Linked DNA regions of Homo sapiens. The protein of the gene in region 1 purifies or fractionates together with the protein of each later gene. This does not show direct contact. Each region holds a gene or a part of one and is shown on either strand. Other genes may lie near its edges.

What was found.
Region 2: the proteins of RAP1GAP2 (region 1) and PIP4K2A purify together in Homo sapiens (co-immunoprecipitation; one large-scale study listed by IntAct). This does not show direct contact.

The regions. Positions count from the first base shown.
Region 1 is NC_000017.11:2,799,311-2,803,123, forward strand, and holds part of RAP1GAP2 (rap1 GTPase-activating protein 2), read left to right. Parts: intron 1-1,204; coding exon 1,205-1,240; intron 1,241-3,813. UniProt on the Homo sapiens protein: GTPase activator for the nuclear Ras-related regulatory protein RAP-1A (KREV-1), converting it to the putatively inactive GDP-bound state.
Region 2 is NC_000010.11:22,539,882-22,543,694, forward strand, and holds part of PIP4K2A (phosphatidylinositol 5-phosphate 4-kinase type-2 alpha), read right to left. Parts: intron 2,167-3,813; coding exon 1,923-2,166; intron 194-1,922; coding exon 90-193; intron 1-89. UniProt on the Homo sapiens protein: Catalyzes the phosphorylation of phosphatidylinositol 5-phosphate (PtdIns5P) on the fourth hydroxyl of the myo-inositol ring, to form phosphatidylinositol 4,5-bisphosphate (PtdIns(4,5)P2). Has both ATP- and GTP-dependent kinase activities.

The DNA.
Region 1 (3,813 bases):
AGAAACTGGGAGAGACGTGGGCCAGGCCCCTCGGGGTGCCGCTTGCTTTGCTGTTGTAACTGAGATCAGAAGGTGCTGGGAGTTTACTCAGAGTGAAAGGACCCCGTCCCCTAGCTCCAGGCCTCAGGGTGACTTGTGGGCTGGCTCAGCTCCGTGTCCTCTCCTCTTCCCTGGAGCTGTGACTGTGGGAAGCCTGAGGCAGCGCTGGGCTGGCCAGAGAAGGGTGCCGGAAAGAGCCTCCAGGGTCTCCAGCATGCTGGAGCCAGTGGCAGTTTTAGTGAAGCTGACAGTGATGGTGACACTGATGATGACATGTGGTGACATGGACAGTGATGGTGACACGAATCGTGATGTTGCAAAGGCAGCATTGGTGCTGGTGGCAGTGCTGGTGACAGTGGTGGTCACGACCCTTCCACAAGAGGAGATACTGACAGTGGGAACACTGTCCACCTTTCTGCCTCTGGAGAGGGAGGAGGGGCCTCTTCTTGCCAGCCATAAGGGCTGGCATATGCAGGGGGGTAAAAATAGAACCTCAGCGGCGCTGTCTCCCCTTCCAGTGAGGGCGGGCACAGGCTGGGGATGGAGGAGCTGGCTGTGAGGGCAGTCTGCAGCAAACGTGATCTTCCCCGCTCTGAACCTCTGTGCCTGATACAACCCACCAGGGTCTGCCCCAGGAGCAGGGTCTGCCTCCCTGGATGGACTGGTGGCTCCTTGGGCAGGAGGGTCCCTGGGGCTGGGGATGCTTGCGTCTTCCCAAAGCAGACGCCTGGGAAATATGGATGTCCACCTGGCATTCAGATTGACATCCGTGCTGACCCCTGAAGCCGGGTTGCTGGGTTCTCTTGCGAGGGTAGCCGTAATAAAGGGAGAGGCTGCATACAAAGTGCTTACGATCCCTGGACCTGACGTGAGATACCTGAATTCAGACTGGGCCAGTGATTTTACCTTTCTGAGCCTGGGTTTCCTCATCTCTGAAATGGGGAGAATAATAATACGCATGTTGTAGGGTGGTGTGTGGCCCCAGCTCTCCCAGCACTCAGAGGCGTCTCTCCCCCTGCTAGCGGAGAACTGGCCCCTTTAGCCAGTCCCTGACAGAGCCCTGCTGTCTGGTGGTTTGGGCTGTCCCGGGGACTCCTCCATACAGATGCTATGTAGGAGTCTTCAGCCTCAGCACTGACCGGAGCCCTTGCTTTTCTCTTGGCAGGATCGACAAGACCATGCTGGCAAGTCTGAAGGTCAAGTAAGTAGCAATTTCCTGTTCTGTAAAGGTCAGAGATGACGCGGATCAGAGCGCCGGGCCCTTGCTCCCCCCAGGTTGTGGGAGACACAAGAGGGGCTGTCGTGTTTGTCAGATTCCAGTCCGAGTCCATGGTGCTTCCAGATCGGAGGAGGCTGGACTAACTCTTATTCCTGGGGTGTTCAGGGAGAGGTAGAGGTGGGAATGGAATCACCAGGGGCTAGAATGGTGGGAGTGTGTGTAGCAGGTGTAACATTCAGTCCCATTATTCTTTTTTTTCTTTTTCTTTTTCTTTCTTTCTTTCTTTCTTTTTTTTTTTTTGAGACGGAGTCTTGCTCTGTTGCCAGGCTGGAGTGCGGTGGCATGATCTCTGCTCACTGCAACCTCCACCTTCCAGGTTCAAGTGAATCTCCTGCCTCAGCCTCCCAAGTAGCTGGGATTACAGGCGCCCACCACCACACCTGGCTAATTTTTGTATTTTTAGTAGAGACGGAGTTTCACCATGTTGGCCAGGCTGGTCTCAATCTCTTGACGTCATGGTCCGCCCACCTAGGCCTCCCAAAGTGCTGGGATTATAGGCGTGAGCCACTGCGCCTAGCCCAGACCCATTATCTTCCTATCACTTTAGTTTTTAGATATATATTGGGCTGGGCATGGTGGCTCACACCTGTAATCCCAGCACTTTGGGAGGCCGAGGTGGGTGGATCACCTGAGGTCAGGAGTTCCAGACCAGCCTGGCCAACATGGTGAAACCCCGTCTCTACTAAAAATACAAAAATTAGCTGAGCGTGATGGCACTTGCCTGTAATCCCAGATACTCAGGAGGCTGAAGCAGGAGAATCACTTGAACCCAGGAGGTGGAGGTTGCATTGAGCCGAGATCACACCATTGCACTCCAGCCTGGGGGACAGAGTGAGACTCTGTCTCAAAAAAAAAAAAAGAAAGATAATTACATTTTTTATCACTTTAATTTTTATGTGAACTCCCAATCCTGGCAGTGACTTTCTGACATTCCCCGCCTACTAGGACCTGACTAAACACTCCAGGGTATGTGTGTGTGTGTGTGTGTGTGTGTGTGTGTGTGTGTGTGTGTGTGTGTGTGATGTCAGCTGCTCATCAAGTCATTTGTTGCCAGGTATGTCAGCATGGGCAGCCTGGCCCTGGGGCTTTCTGAGGCTCCCACGCCAGACTCAGGGTGTGGGAATTACCTGCCTCGGTTTACCGTGTATCTCTTGGTCCGTCTGCTGAGGTCCGAAGCAGGCACAGCCCTCTCCTAGAACCTCTGACCTCTCTTCCCTCACCACCTTCATTCCTTTTTCCTCTGCGTTTCTGGCCAAACCATTTTGTCTGCATCCTGATCTCCTTTTTCTTTTGAGACTTAACCAAAGTGTAGCCTGCGTCCAGCTGCACCCCTCCCATGAGGCAATGAGTACTGGCTAACCATCTGCTCCAGTGGAGTGAATTGAAAAGGAGGGAAATTCTAGGAGGAAAAAAGCATTGGCCTCTAGCTCAAAATATTCTCCCGGCACATGTGAATTCACTGTTGCATGGAAAATTCCTCCAATGAATCGCCCTCCTTCCGAGGCAGCTTCTCTGGGTTGTCACTCCCCCATCTCGGCAGAAGGTTTTCCCTGCCTAGTCTCCCTCTGTCATGCCATTCAGTTGCCAGCCCTGGTTGTGTATCCCCTGGATGCAGGTCCCTGGGCAAAGTACGGCCAGTCTTGACGGTTGGCATAAAAGAGGGTCAAAATAAGAGGTTTCCCACTTTGGTTGGTTTTGTTCAAAAAGGTGAGGCTGGGCAGTTCGCAGGGCCGGGATGGAGGACAGACTTTTCCTGCCCTTCAAGAGCTTTCAGTTTCTCTGTTGAGCTGATGCCAGGAAGCTGGATGTGGTGGTTCACGCCTGTAATCCCAGTACTTTGGGAGGCCAAGGTGGGTGGATCGCCTGAGGTCAGGAGTTCGAGACCAGCCTGGTCAACATGGTGAAACCCTATCTCTGCTAAAAATAAAAAAAATTAGCTGGGCGCGGTGGCGGGCACCTGTAATCCCAGCTACTCGGCCGACTGAGGCAGGAGAATTGCTTGAACCTGGGAGGTGGAGGTTGCAGTGAGGCGAGATCGCACCACAGCCTGGGAGACAAGAGTGAAATGCCGTCTCAAAAAAAAAAGTCTAGAGCTGATGCCAGGAGTGCCATGGAGTAGTCCCGAAAGGCTGCCTGGAGGAGGTGGCCTCTAAAGTAGCTCTTAGAGATGAAGCAGGATAGTAGGACCCCCATGTCTGTGCTGGCTTGGCATGGTGTGTGCATCAGTGCAGACCCATTCAATCTGGAGGTGTCAGGGCAAGTCACCCGGGACAAGATGCTTCCCTTCTCTGGGCTTTAGTTTCCATATCTTTTGTCCAGTGGACACAATAATGTCTGGTTTTCCTAGAGCTTTCTAGAGCATATTTGCATACTGAGTGAGACGCCAGGCATGAAGCAGAGCTGCTAAGGGGTGTAGAGTGGTCAGAGTGTTCTTTTGGTGCTGTTTTGGGACATCTAGTTCAATCTCACAAGCACTTATCGAGGGAGGGCCTGTT
Region 2 (3,813 bases), on another chromosome or scaffold:
GCCAGGAGAGAGAGAGAGAGAGAGAGAGAGGGAGAGAGAGAGAGAGAGAGGGAGAGAAAGAGAGAAGGAAACAAAATGGAGATACTCACGCCATGTTTAACAGTTTTTGCAGCATGGGCAGCTTTCTTTTTTGCATCATAATGAGTAAGGATGTCAATAATTGCCATGAAGTACACCTCCTTCCTAGGCGAGTCTGCAGAGACAGGAGAGCAATGACTGTGGGACATGTGACAACACCAGTGCCAGCATTGCTGCTGAGGGAGGGAGGGAGGGAGAAGTGAGCCTGGAGGGAGGGGATTCAATGGAACGCGGATGGAAGGAGTCCAGAGACAAACTCTACACCACCCCTGCGGATCCTGACTAAACACACAGCTTGCCTCTCTGACCCAGTCCCCCTGCAATTTAAAAAGAAACAACCCTAACAACTAAAAACATCATCACACCAGGGTATCAACAGTGGAGATCCAACGGTGGAACGGAGTCTTTTTTTTTTTTTAATTTGCATTTTCTTTAATAATTGTGTATTGCTTTGGTGTGAAGAAATATGCTATTTAAAAATACCCTATAAAACAGAACTAATTATGTACACTAATCCTTTACATCAAATGGTAGAACTGTTCATAATTCTCACTGGATACAGTATCAGAACTGGATAAAGGCATACATCCACTCCAATGTCTATTTTCTTTTTTTGAGACAGAGTTTTGTTCTTGTTGCCCAGGCTGGAGTGCAATGGTGCGATCTTGGCTCACAGCAACCTCCACCTCCCGAGTTCAAGTGACTCCTGCCTCAGCCTGCCGAGTAGCCGGGATTACAGGCATGCATCACTATGCCCAGCTAATTTCATATTTTTAGTAGAGATGGGGTTTCTCCATGTAGGTCAGGCTGGTCTCAAACTCATGACCTCAGGTGATCTGCCTGCCGCGGCCTCCCAAAGTGCTGGGATTACAGGCATGAACCACTGCGCCCGGCCCGTGTCTGTTTTCTATCCATTTCCAAAAATATGAACAGTAAGAAAAGTACATTTGACTATCTAATTTTCTGTGTTGAAGAAAACATTTTGGTGAGCAAAACAGAACAAAACAGAACTCAGATCCTCAGCTGATATGCCATTTGAGATTAAAAAACAACTGATGAGCCACAGTTTTTATTATTCAAAAACCAAGAAGCTGTTTTTATCCTATCACAAAAATATTTTGGTATTGTCACGGATAAGTTGCTAAGGTAGGATGTAATATTCAAATAACTGGTGCACCCAATCACCTGGATACGGTGGATTAAGATTTATCTGACTCTAGGGAAGAGGGCCATAGGCCCTTCCATGGGGGAGGACAGCAGAGCCAGACTCAGCAGCAAATCAGATTCCCACCCCACCCACAGGGCCCATCTTCACACACCCTTCACACCCCTGAGAGGGAGAGGGCTGTTGGTAATGACAAGAGGACAAGCTAAGGGTCACAGAGGATCACATGCATGTGCCTAGCTTAGACTCATGATGCTTTTGACTTAGATAAAAAAGATAACTAGGCAAAAACGTATTAATATTTTAAAGCATTTCTGATGTTATTTGTGAACATGTATGTGTGCATATGTACATGCATGTTGTGTTGTGTGTGCACGTACGTTGTATGCCAGTGTGTATGTGCATATGTACAGGTGTGTTGTACATGTATAGTATAGTTCGTGGTTTTGCTGTATTCCCTCAACATCACAGAATTCAAAGGTCCGATCGCCTTATGTTTCAGCACTGAGATCACGGTTAGCTTTAACATACTCTTGTCCCCAAATCCATTTCTTTGGAGTTTGGAGGATGAGTGCTGCCGGGCAGCACCCTCATAACTGGGGTAGTGCTTACTGGTAGATAACAAGGCCAAAGTCAAACCACTTCACATGCAAAAAGGGTCCACAGTAATCAAACTTACTTTCATGGCACTTAATTCCATAGACGTCGATGTTCGGATCGAACTCCCCGGGAGCCAGGGGTGGTGAGCTGTTCAGTGTATTCCCGGGGCTATCTGGGGGGGTTCCCACCGGGTGGGTGCCATCGCTCTCGCCCTCCTCCTCCCCATCGTTCTCCTCACACTCCACTTCCTCCTGTTCGGCTCTCTCCACATCATGAATTCCCACCAGCAGACTGTAGTCCATGAGCTTCAGCTGGGCCAGAAACTGGGGACAGAGGCAACAGGGTGAGTCAGCCACACCTTAAACATAAAAGCCAACATTTAAAGGAGACAAGCTCGGGTGACACCCAGAGGGAAGGCTGTGGGGTGGGGCAGCAGAGGCGCCGGGTGCCTCCTTCACGATGCTCTTACACTCCTGGGCTGTTTCTCTATCTAAAATGTAGCCTCACACTTCAGGCTGGCTCAGAGCTCAGGCTGTTTACCCTGGAATGCCACACTGGATGCGGAGAGGTGTGTATCTATCACAGGGTGGCTGGATTTCACCAGATAGCAAGGAGCATGACCAGTAAGAGATGCGGAGAGAGACTGGGAGAGAGAGCAAGTTCCTCCCAATGATTAAGACTGGCTAATGGGGAAACCCAGGCATCTCCCAAGTAGCTTCCAGCGGAGTCTCTGGTGGTAGTTCAGGAAAGCACCCTGGAATTCAGCATGCTCTGTGGAGGCGATTGTTACGCTGTTGTAAATAAGTAAAAGTAAAGGCACTGTGTCCACATCTGGTGAGTAATGCAGTCCTGTCCAGGTCAACAAGGTGCTTTCCACGTGTGCTTTCCACGAAGCACCACACATCCAGGATTCCTGTCCTCCCTCTCCTCCTCCAGCCGTGGCTAGAACATAATGTGGGGGCAAGACCCAGCTCTGTGTGTTTGGCTACTCCTGTCTGCCCAGTTCTTTGACTTTTCAGATCACGATTTCTCTTTGTTTCCCTTTTCTTATTTGAGACCTTCAGCACAACGTTCCAATGTTGCCATAAGATGTGGATGGTTGTGCTGAGTGCAAACAGTGGCAGCCCATCTGCGGGCTGGACCCAACTGGCTCCCTGACCCCGTGGCTGGCTGGCTCTGCACAGGATCCTGTTCCACTCCGACCTTGGGCTCAGGGTCCAGGAAGGTTCACGGTCCTGGCTCTGGAAGGACTCAGTGCCACCTCGCTGGGGAATGCAGAGTGGCTGAGCAGCCTCTGGGCTATGCTGATAGAATTTAGGAAGCAGATGTCCTCATGCAAAGGGCAAACAGATAAAATCACAGGTCTTGAAGTTCTGGCTAAAAATGAAATCAATTTGCTAAGCCCCGCAGAGTCATTTCTCCTCAGCCTGCTGGGAAGGAGTTCTGTCTCGAAACTGAATGAGAAGCCCCGATTCCTTACAGACGAGGAGAGGACCCCTGGGCACAGGGCTATCCCACTCTCCAGCTGGTTCCTGGTGCCTGCAATTCTCCATCAGCCAGCACCCCGCTCAGCCCAGCAAACTGGCCAGAGCTCCCACTTCGCTGCCTTCCCAACAGGAATCCCCCAGGGCCAGCTATATCTTCCCCAATTGTTTTGAGCTCAAAAAAGAGAAATCACACAAATCTTACACTCAAATATTTAAGCAAAGTGGGAGAAACCTGTTTGTTTAAAAATAGAGGCAAACCCCTCGTGGAAACAGCATGGGGCTCCTGCGTTCAGCTTTCTGGGTCCCAGAGAAGAGGGGAAGCCACTGCTCATCCCCCCTGGTCTTTCCCCAAACTCCCCCATTACAGTAAACATGAGAACTGACTTTCCACTTGCACCTCTCTCTGCCAGATTCCTTTCCAGCAGTCAGAGACTGCGCATCCTCCCCTAGAATCTCGGCAGCTGCCAGGCTGTGAGGTGCACC